Linked DNA regions of Homo sapiens. The protein of the gene in region 3 purifies or fractionates together with the protein of the main gene of each other region. This does not show direct contact. Each region holds a gene or a part of one and is shown on either strand. Other genes may lie near its edges.

What was found.
Region 1: the proteins of TNFRSF8 (region 3) and DPY19L1 purify together in Homo sapiens (affinity purification with mass spectrometry; 2 studies listed by BioGRID and IntAct, with this or other methods). This does not show direct contact.
Region 2: the proteins of TNFRSF8 (region 3) and NAA20 purify together in Homo sapiens (affinity purification with mass spectrometry; 2 studies listed by BioGRID and IntAct, with this or other methods). This does not show direct contact.

Annotation. Positions count from the first base shown.
Region 1 is NC_000007.14:35,030,854-35,034,508, forward strand, and holds part of DPY19L1 (protein C-mannosyl-transferase DPY19L1), read right to left. Parts: intron 1-3,655. UniProt on the Homo sapiens protein: C-mannosyltransferase that mediates the C-mannosylation tryptophan residues on target proteins.
Region 2 is NC_000020.11:20,023,791-20,027,445, forward strand, and holds part of NAA20 (N-alpha-acetyltransferase 20), read left to right. Parts: intron 1-1,886; coding exon 1,887-1,977; intron 1,978-2,993; coding exon 2,994-3,129; intron 3,130-3,655. UniProt on the Homo sapiens protein: Catalytic subunit of the NatB complex which catalyzes acetylation of the N-terminal methionine residues of peptides beginning with Met-Asp, Met-Glu, Met-Asn and Met-Gln. Proteins with cell cycle functions are overrepresented in the pool of NatB substrates.
Region 3 is NC_000001.11:12,136,295-12,139,949, reverse strand, and holds part of TNFRSF8 (tumor necrosis factor receptor superfamily member 8 isoform 1 precursor), read right to left. Parts: intron 1,722-3,655; coding exon 1,514-1,721; intron 1-1,513. UniProt on the Homo sapiens protein: Receptor for TNFSF8/CD30L. May play a role in the regulation of cellular growth and transformation of activated lymphoblasts. Regulates gene expression through activation of NF-kappa-B.

The DNA.
Region 1 (3,655 bases), on a different chromosome or scaffold from region 3:
GAAATGAAACTGCCCTTTATGAGATTAAACAACATCTAGACCCAGATATAGACGTAATTTTTACTAGCTTTGATGACTAGTAACCATTATAACTAAACAGTTCTAACAGTAACTAAATAAAACTAGCAGCCTCTTCCCCTGGAAGAGTAATGTCTCAATGGTTTGGCTGAAGTACAAGCTGATGGCAAAAGAACTAGCAAAACAGGAATTTAGGATTAAACATATGAATAATAAAGCCTAAAGCTACCCCATTTGGAACTATGTACACAGGTTTATGGTCTCTATGACAATGTAGATTTAGTCAGTCCTCCATATCTGTCAGTTCCACATCTGCAGATTCAACCAACCTCAGATTGAAAATAGTAGGCGGAAAAAAAATCCATCTGTACTGAACACATGCAGATATTATTCCCTAAACAATACAGTGTAACAAATATATAAGTAACATTTACATTCTATTAGGTATTCTAAGTAATCTAGGCATGATTTAAAGTATCCAGGAGTATGTGTGTATGTTATAGGCTAATACTATGCCATTTTATACTAGGGACTTGAGAATCTGCAGATTTTGATATCGGAGGGAGGTCCTTGAACCAATCCCTCGGGGTTACTAAGTAACAACTTGCCTCATTAGCATGAACTTTAAGAAACATTAATATACCTAACACACTCATTAAGAGAAATTAATACAGCCTAATAGGATAAGTATTTACAATGCATAACAGCCACGGTTCAAATATTAGCAACATCCAAATACCCATATGTACATAAATAAAACTGTATGTGCTTTCAGTATTGATGCCATATTATTGGCCAAAAATCAATCACAAATAGATAACATATGCTTATATTTACATAAACTAAACTTATCAAATTTGTTATTTGGATGCTAATGAGCATCACATATTCAGAAAACTTCTAACTGTATCTGTTAATAATAAAATATGTTTAGGTGATTATAAACATTCTTTAGAGTTAGCCAGAAGTCTATCTTAGAAAGAAAAAAAAATGGCTGTAAACATTAAAGAAATTCTTTAAAATCCCAAATTCCCATTGGCATAACCTCTATGAATTAACATAAACACACTCTCACAGCTGGTGCTCAGTTGGGTCTATGTGTCTGTTTGAAAGCAAGCACACCAAGATGGCCTGTGTCCCTGTGCCTCATGCTTCCTTAGCTTTTCTTGGCCCTTATGCCACCCCTAATATGCTCTTTCTACTTGTTGTTCCTGTATCTCTAAGTATGACCCTCTTTTCCTTCTTTTTCCTGGGGAAGGAAGAAACAAGAAAACTAACATTTATTGAGCACAAAATGTTAGGGTTTCTCAGAATTGGACTCTAGGGTTTCATTTCTTTTGCTGTACTGTCCCCTTAGAGGAGATGAAATATAGCATACTAGTTAAGAGCATGAACTTAGGAAACACATTGCCTGGGTCAAATCCTGGCCCTTCTACATTCTAGGGGTGACCTTGGACAAGTTACTTAATATCTTTGTGCCTCAGATTCCCCCCACGTGGTAAAACAAGCACAGTAATCATAGTGTCATGGTGAGGACTGAGTAAACAGTTAAATGAGTTCATCTAAAGCACTTCCAACAAAGCCTGGCAAAGAGTAAGCCCCCTATCAGTATAAGATGCTATTGTTCCCCTAAGTATGGAAATAGAAGTTCAATGGGAATACAAATTCAATTACCATTAATGTGAAAACCACCTATTTGCTGATGACTCCCTGTAGTACATCTCCACTCAGACCTTTTCTCTCATATCCCACCACTGATTGGCATTTCTACTTGGACATCTCACAAATGTCCCAAAAGTAACATGTCCAAGACGAAATTCTTGACCTTTTCCTTCAAACCCATTCCCTCATCCATACCCCTAGTCTTCACTATCTTGGTGAATGCCAGCATTATTTACCCAATTAGAGAAGCCAAAAATGTACAAAGTATTCATAACTCCTTCCTTTCCCTCAATCCAAGCCCAATTCATAAGTCCTATCATTTTCACCTCCAAAATACAACTCAAATTGACCAATTTCTCTCCATCTCCACAGCCACCGCCTTCATCTAGGCCAGCAACCCTCTTGCTAGGTCCGTGAACAGCCTCCTCATGGGTCTCTCCACTTTTGTCCTTGTAGTGCAACCACCCATTTTCCCAAGAGCAGATTTCTCAAAGTAAAAATTTAATCATGTCACTCTCCTCCTGTTGAGCATTCCTCAATGGCTTCCTGTTGCACTGAGAATAAAACCCAAGCTCCTTTTCAAGATCTGGCCCATGCCCATCTCACTTTGATGCACCTCCACCCTCTCTTCTTTCAACATGCTAAGCTCTGTCATACTCTTCTGTTCGGCTGACATCTTTTCTTTCTATCGGTCTCAGCTTCAAGGCTACCTCCCCAGAGACCTTTCCTGACCCTACTTAAAGAGGGTATTTCCTTTTTTTTCTATCTCAGCTTGTTTCTTTCCTGCAGTGCACTCATTCACAATGTGCAATTATTTTCATTTATTTACCATCCCCCCTTCCAGAATGTAAGTTCCATGAAGGTAGGGGTGACAGAGTCTCATTCTACATTTTACCCCACCAACTAGCATCTGGCTTAGTAGACGCTCAATGATATGGTATGACTGACTATGAATGAACTTACTGTGCTATTTTACATGTATTATCTCATTTATTTTTTACCATAATCAGACAAAGCATTTATTATTCCCATTTTAAGGGTGAGAAATATTAAAGGAGTGTAGAACAGCTCGAATGCAGAAACAGGATTCAAATGCAGGCCAGTGTTGATATGGCTATGCTGCTTCTACCACACCACATTGCTCCCCCCATCTAGTCCCCAACAGCTAGATTCAACTCTCTGCCTCCACCCAGTTTCTGACCACTTCTGCCTCTAAGAAGTCGCAAGTGTTTCCTACCATATGGGCTTCAAGGTTCTCGTAAGCTGTAGAGAATAAAAGCTGTGGTCCCAAATGACACAATTTTGCCTCCCAGGGTACAATGGCCAAAATCTGGAGACATTTTCGTTGTCACTACTGGGGAGATACCAGTGGCATCTAGTAGGTGGAGGCCAAGGATGCTGCTAAAATCCTGCAGTGCACAGGAAAGCCCCCTCAACAAAAAAATTATCCCACCCAAAATGCCACAATGCTGAGGTTGCAAAGCCTTGTCAATAAGGAACCAGGTTATAGCAGGTGTACCCTTGCCATTGACCACAGGAACCAGGTGGGCAATGGGAATGAGTCAAACAGGATTAATGCAAAGGGGGGAAAAGGTAGTTTTTATCATCCACTTTTCCCATACTCAGGTTCTTGTTTTATTGTTGTGTATATAGTATCTCATGTTAGTCTTTCACCACAGACATGCTTTGTTTGCATGTCTAATGGGTGTATCTTTTACTACCACAATTGTTTCCATGACGGAGCACTGGCATACATAAATAGACCAACAGACATATAGACTTATGCATATATGTACTGAGTTGCATTGTGGAAGTGTGAACAGGTTTAATATAAAATGTATTGTTACAATGTCAGCTGTGGTCAAAAAAGTTTGGGAAACATTGTCAAGGTTCTTACTATGTCACAGCCACCTCTGCATGAGGAAGCTATCAGGTTGAAACTTCTAAAAATAAACATGTCAAGAACCCCTCTTTA
Region 2 (3,655 bases), on a different chromosome or scaffold from region 3:
TAAAAAATGATAAACCTCAGTGCTGATGATGGTGAGGTGAGAGGAACATTCTCATAAATTGCTAGTGACAATATAAATTGCTATTATCTTTCCAGAAGGCACTTTGGAAATAGTAATTCCATTTCCTGAAAGCTGAAAATAAGAAGAAATAGAGGCAGTTTGTCAGTGGTTGACAAAATAAGGCCCATAGGCCAAATCTGGCCCACTGCCTGTTTTTGTAAATAAAATGTTATTGGGACACCACGCTGATTAATTTATATTTTTTTCTGTGGCTTTTGCAGTTTGAGTAGTTCAGCAGGGACTGTATGGCCCACAAAGCCTAGGATGTTAACTATTTGGCCTTTTACAGAAAAAGTTTGCTAACCCCTGAGTTATACCATTACAAACATTATTTATTGCAGGAGAGTTACTAAGCATTTGGAATAAGATTCACACACAACAATCAGGAGATGGTTAAGTAAATTAAGCTGTACTGAAGAAGGATTTCAAACATTTTTTTGAGAAACAGGAAATGACCCAGGTGTCCATTGTCAGGATACAGGCTATTTAAGGTGTCTCTTCACATAAAGAAATACTATACAGCAGTAAAAATTAACTTACAGGTGCAGGCAGCAACAGGACTACATATCAGAAACAAAACTGAATGGGAAAAGCAAAAAATCTCTGCAGGTTCATCTGGATTTTTTAAATTACGACTAATGATATCACCACTTTTAAGATTTTTGAAGAATTTTGAATGACAAAAGTTTCACTATATAGGAAGGAAGGATTTTAGGATGCAAATCCGTTTATATGGTGTGCTTCCAGTGACATTTAAAATTTGCAGTGAAAGTCCCATAATCCAGGTGAGCCTATATTTGAAAGTAACCTGTTAGGTCCTAGAGGTCGATGGGAGGGAGGGGTGTCTGGGACTCCTCTGTTAGCCACAGAAGAGATGGTTGTGGTATATGTCAGTGGCTGGCTGGCAGGAAGACTGGCTGTCCTGCCATGTTAAGGGTTGTATTTGAGGGGTATTCAAAATAATGATGGTCCTTCAGAGGAGATTTTGAAGAATTTCGCACGGAACAGGTTTTCCAGGAACTTAAAAAATATATTTATGTGTGATTGATGGTGTCCTCTGATAAATTGCATCAGAAAGTTTATACTAACAAGAAATATATTTTCATCCATTAAAGTACAGAGTAAAAAGAAGAAGAGAAATGTAGGAATGATTACATGTCAGTAAGGATATCCCAAGGTTGAAGAGTGAAGTCATGAGCAAATTATTCAGGCATTTACTGTTAACATAGTTGATTCCTTAAGTCAGCTTTTATCTGCATTACTAGAAATGCAGGATTTGAATCAGTGGAGAGGAAAAACTGGGTAATTAAGTTGGCTCTGGAAGGACTTAGGTTGTAAAGTTATTTTCACAGTCTCATAGCTGAAGTCAAAGTAGGAACTACCCATTAATTTTTCAGTGCAATTATGTAAGCATCAGTGTATTAAGCATCTACTGTGTACCAGGCACCAGGGACAGAGGGAACATGATATTCATAGACTAAGAGGAGGCAGACCGCAAACAAACAATATCAGGTGATAAATGGAGAGACTTAGATATGGTATGGTCAGTAGGGAAGTAGACTGTAGAACTTTGGGGTCCTGATTCTCTGCTTTCTATTAGACAGTGCTATCACCATTCCACACTTGAGGCTATATGTCCAGGCAATTTTGTTAAAAATCAGTGATAACCTAAATATTTCATGTAATGGTATGTATGATTATAGGACTCATACAGAGCTGGGGATAAAGTAACAGTATACTTTTTAAAGGAAACTTTTTTTACAATATCCCTTAATGAAGAACTTTTTACTGTCCATTACTTTTCACACTCCTTAACAGGACTCTAGTATGGGATTCCTTTCTACCTACAATACCTCGCCCACTGGCCAGAGTATTTCATTGTTGCAGAGGCACCTGGTGGAGAATTAATGGGTTATAGTAAGTATAATACCACTAGTATTTTGTGGAGTAGGTAAAGATTTTAATATAGATTTCAACTGATTGCTTTAGACTGCAGAATTGGAATATAATGATGCTTGTAATTTTATTTCCTCTTCAACAATTCAAGAACTTACTGATCTCTGTTTTGGGCACTGTGCTAGGCCCAGGCGATAACGGCAGTGAACCAGACAGACATGGTCTTAGTCTTCTTAAATCTTTCATTCTAAAAAAAAAAAAAATCTTTCATTCTAAGGCCAGGTACAGTGGCTCACGCCTGTAATCCCAACACTTTGGAAGGCCAAGGCAGGCAGATCCTTTGAGGTCAGGAGTTCAAGATCGGCCTGGCCAAATGGTGAAAGCCTGCCTCTACTAAAAATACAAAAAATTAGCTGGGCGTGGTATCGCGTGCCTATAATCCCAGCTACTCAGGAAGCTGAGGCGGGAGAATCACTTGAACCCCGGAGGCAGAACTTGCAGTGGGCTGAGATCATGCCACTGCACTCCAGCCTGGGTGACACAGTGAGACTCTGTCTCAAAAAAAAAAAAAAAATCTTTCATTCTATACTTTTGTTAAATTTCTACATGGTTTATTTAGTACATAATGCAGGCATCATAGCATCCTCATTGAATTAGCATTACTAACAGAACCTTTAGCTCTGAACTATATGTGTACATCCACATGTACCCACATATACCCACACCCATATGAAATGCAGATATTTGAAAAAATACATACTCTGGTTTTTTTTTTTTCAAAATTAGTTGTGTTTTAAGTATATCGTTCTTTTTTGTTCTAATTCTGATTTTAGAACTATTCTAAATGTAACAGATAGTGTTACATTTACAAGTGAATTTCAAATAAAAGCACTAACTGTTAGCTGGATGACCTCAGGTGGTACTTAAAAACTTCTTTATTAGTTTCCTTTGTAATAAAAACATACTGAACAGTAATTCTATATTTATGTGTAAATCAATGTCTAGTTACTGAATGTGATTTTTGTTGTTGTTGGCAGTTATGGGTAAAGCAGAAGGCTCAGTAGCTAGGGAAGAATGGCACGGGCACGTCACAGCTCTGTCTGTTGCCCCAGAATTTCGACGCCTTGGTTTGGCTGCTAAACTTATGGAGTTACTAGAGGAGATTTCAGAAAGGTGAGATTCAGTTTTTCAAATACACTTAGTGATTTGTGGACCCCTAACCATTTTCTTCCCCTTCAGGCTGAATAACTGTCATGCTTTACAGTTCACAGGAATTTCATCTTCCATCTCCAGTAGTCCTTAGAACAATTCTATCACATAGTCAAAGTGATATTGTTTCTATTTTGCCATTGAGGAAATTAAGGCAAAGTGTTGTAGTGACCCGCTATAGGCCTATAAGCTGAGGAATTGGTGCAATTCAGTTCCAAAGGCTAGCTCTCGAGGTTTCTCTTAGTGTTCCTGCCACAGTGGCACACATTCCTAAAATCTGTTACCATTGCTTTGGCATCTGAATAAATTTTTAGCAGTGCTCCTCGGCCAAAAGAAAATAGTTCAGTCTTAAGCAGTTATATTCTAACTGTTTAATAAGTATTTATAGCCTAACAGCTAATAGCCATTTAGAAAAAAAATAAATTGAAAGAAGAAATATTTTCATTTCATTCTTAAATAACTGTGGCTAGCTACCAATGAGAGGTGTGCA
Region 3 (3,655 bases):
AAAAGACTGCCCAGGCTGGGCATGGTGGCTCATGCCTATAATCCCAGTACTTTGGGAGGCCAAGGCAGGCAGATCACCTTGAGGCCAGGAGTTCCAGACCAGCCTGGCCAACAGAGTGAAACCCCATCTCTACTAAAAATACAAAAAATTAGCCAGGCATGATGACACTCGCCCATAATCCCAGCTACTCAGGAGGCTGAAAAAATAAAAAGAGAAGATGACTGCCCTGAAGAGTTCTGGCCACCACTGTCTGCCATAGAAATGCACAGGACAATTACAAATGACTCTTCAGTATTATCCCAGTGCCAGTTACCCTTCCAGAAGCGACAGAGGTGGGGTCCACCAAGGCCCTGCCCACAGGGAGCACAAAGCCAGGTGGAGGTGGAGGAAGGCTATAAACACGCAGTCACACCACTGGGTGCTAGGACACCGGGTAGGGGAGGCCTGGGTTCTTAGGGAGCATAGCATGGTGGAGAGGGCACAGAAGGCTTCCTGGAGGAAGGGGCAAATAAGCAGGGTCCCCAGGATATCCAGAATTAACTGGATTCAAGGCAGTGGAGTTGGCTATTTCAGGCGAGGGGGTAGCTCCCATTGAGAAGCTCAGAAGTGACAGAGGGGTCTGTAAATTTGGGAGACTGCCATGAGGGGGAGGGACAGACTGTGGGGTCAGAAGGTAGGTGAGTCTGGTCGGGGAGCTACAACTTGCTGTCAGCCTTGAGTGCTGGAATAAGAATGCTGGAATTCATCCCATAGGGAATGGGAAGCTGCTGGAGGCTTCTCGGCAGGAGTGCAATAGGGTCAGGTATACATTTTGGGGAAAATGCCGTACCAAGGTGATGAGAAGCAAGAGAGGAGGCAGGGAGGCCCACAGGAGGCCAAAGCCAATGTCTGTCCAGGCTGGCAGCAGCTGCCGTTGGGAAGCTCTGAACATCTGGGCCCCATCTGTCCTCCTGCTTCTGCAGAGGGTGGGTGGTAACGTGGACAAACCACGGGCTTCAAGGCCCAGCAGATGCGGGACGAGTTCCAGCTGTGCCACTTAGTAGCCATGCAATGGGGAAAATCACTTCACCCTCTGAGCCACGGTCTCCCCAACTGTAAAATGGGGAGAAAGACACCATCCAAAGAAGGTGGTGAGACCATCAGAGATGAAGAGATGGCACCTACACAGTGCCCGGAATGCGCCAGACAAGTGGCAGGTCCTGTGACCACTGGCACGTCTTCCTCCTGTCCCCTCGGGTGCTCGGTGTTGGGGGCTGGGGTGGTGTTCGTTTTTTATGAGTAACAGCAGGCATCTCATGCACACTGGCTCATGAATCCGCACAATGGCCTACGAGGTAAGTACCCTCGCTGTCCCTACTTACAGAAACTTCAATTGGGGTGAAGAATCTATGCCTCTCCTTTCCTGGGCCTTTCAACTCCAGGGTCTCCAGGTCCCTTCCAGGGCCCAGGGCCCCGTATTCATCTCCCATCTGCCCCTGGGCTGCAGGGGACCTCCCAAAACAGGCTGACTCACCAATCTTGTTATTGGTGTGCTCCGTGGACACCCGGGGCTCAGGAAGGTCCCTGGGGGACGAGGGGCCCCCGGCCGGGCTGGCATCCTGCAGCGGCAGGCTCTCCAGGTAGGCTGCCCCCACGCTGTGGCAGGTCTCCATCAGTGGCTGGCTCATTAACCCTCGCTCTTCCGCGACGGGTTCTGTCACCGACGCACCACTCCTCAGCTGCTGTGGGACGGGAATGGGTGCTGCTGCAGGGTACCCCCAACCTCCCCACCAGTCTCTGAACTGGGAGGCCCCTTTTTTTTTTCATCTCTACAGACCCCAGTGAGTCCCCCTTTCTGCTTTAAAAGCTGCCATGAGCTGCCCCGGGCTTCTCAGCTTTCTGGGTGAAGTCTGTTGCTTTTAATTTGTACTAAATAGTAGGGGTAACAGTCAGCGACTCACAGGGTGCTCGCCACGTCCGTTGGCCCTGTCCTAAAGTCCTTGACATATGTTAATCCTCACAACCACTGTATGAGGTGGGTAACAGCCCACTCCCCATTTTACAGATGAGGAAACTGAGGCACAGAGGAGTCGAGTAATTGGCCCAGGGTTATACCATCAATAAGTATCTGAGCTAGGATTTGAACCCTGGCATCTGGTCCATAACCCACACTCATAAGCACCCAAGTCTGTAAGTACCAGCTCCAGGTCCCCCACCTCCTGGAGCAGCCCCTCCAGCTCCCCAGCCCCGACATCCTGGAAAGTAGTCTTTTATGATCACACTCAAGCATTCTAAAAACAGACTACTGTTAGTTCAAGTGACAAGCCCGGTGACCTCTATACTATATAATCTAAATTCATGTATATTATTAATAAATATTTTCTAAATGCTAAAAAAAAAACAAAAAAAAAACAAAAAAAAACAAAAAAACAGCTATGTCATGAGGAAAGTGTCAGTTTAGTTTTTGATTTTTACAGGTAAGGGCAAAGAAGTGGCCTCATGAAATGTCCTGATGCCTTCAAAATGGAGTGAGTGTGAGTAATTCAGAGGAGGCAGGGATGCCCGTGCTGACGCAATGATTCTCAAGGCACAGAGGGCGTATCTTTTAGATTGGTGCAAAAGTAATCACGTCTTTGCCATTATTATTATTATTATTTTTTACTTTTTAAATGGTTTTATTTTATGTACAAATAATGAACATATGTTATACCCATAAATTCTACTTTCCCAAAACAGGAGCTTTTTAAAACAAAACCACATAATAACTTTTAAAAGGCGCTGAGATTCCTCAGCTTCCAGATCACTGCTGAGCTAGAAAAATAAAGTTTGTTCTACCAGGAACCACAGCTTAGAACTGAGTATTCTTCACTCGCTAAGAGTCATCACCACTCCCTAATCTCAAGTACCCAGGGACACAAACACTGCGGAAGGCGGCAGGGCCCTCTGCCTAGGAAAACCAGAGACCTTTGTTCACATGTTTATCTGCTGACCTTCCCTCCACTATTGTCCTATGACCCTGCCAAATCCCCCTCTCTGAGAAACACCCAAGAATGATCAATAAATACTAAAAAAATTAAAAAAAAAAAAAAAAAAAAAAAAAGAACTGAGTATTTTTCAAAGTGGAAATTCTAGAGTGTGGTGTCACTCCAGACAAAGATTATTCTGTTCTCAACCCCAACATCCACAACTACCTATCAGAAGGGTTAAACCAGGTTTGCCATTACTTTTAATGGCAAATGGCACCAACCTTAATACATACTCTTGAATACTCTTTCATAATAATATGAAGGCTAAAAGACTGCCTTTTTTTTTTTTTTTTTTCAGATGGAGTCTCACTCTGTTACCCGGGCTGGGAGAGCAGTGGTGCAATCTCGGCTCCCTGCAACCTCTGTCCCCCAGGCTCAAGCGATTCTCCTGCCTCAGCCTCCTGAGTAGCTGGGACTACAGGCGTGTGCCACTACACCTGGATACTTTTTGTAGTTTTAGTAGAGACGGGGTTTCACTATGTTGGCAAGGCTGGTCTCGAACTCCTGACCTCAGGTGATCCGCCTGCCTCAGCCTCCCAAAATGCTGGGATTTTAAGTGTGAGCCATCATATCCGGCCAAAAGACTGCATTTTAAAACAAGTTACTATTAATGCATTGGCCTATGCAGCAAAAACATATTTGATTACCTT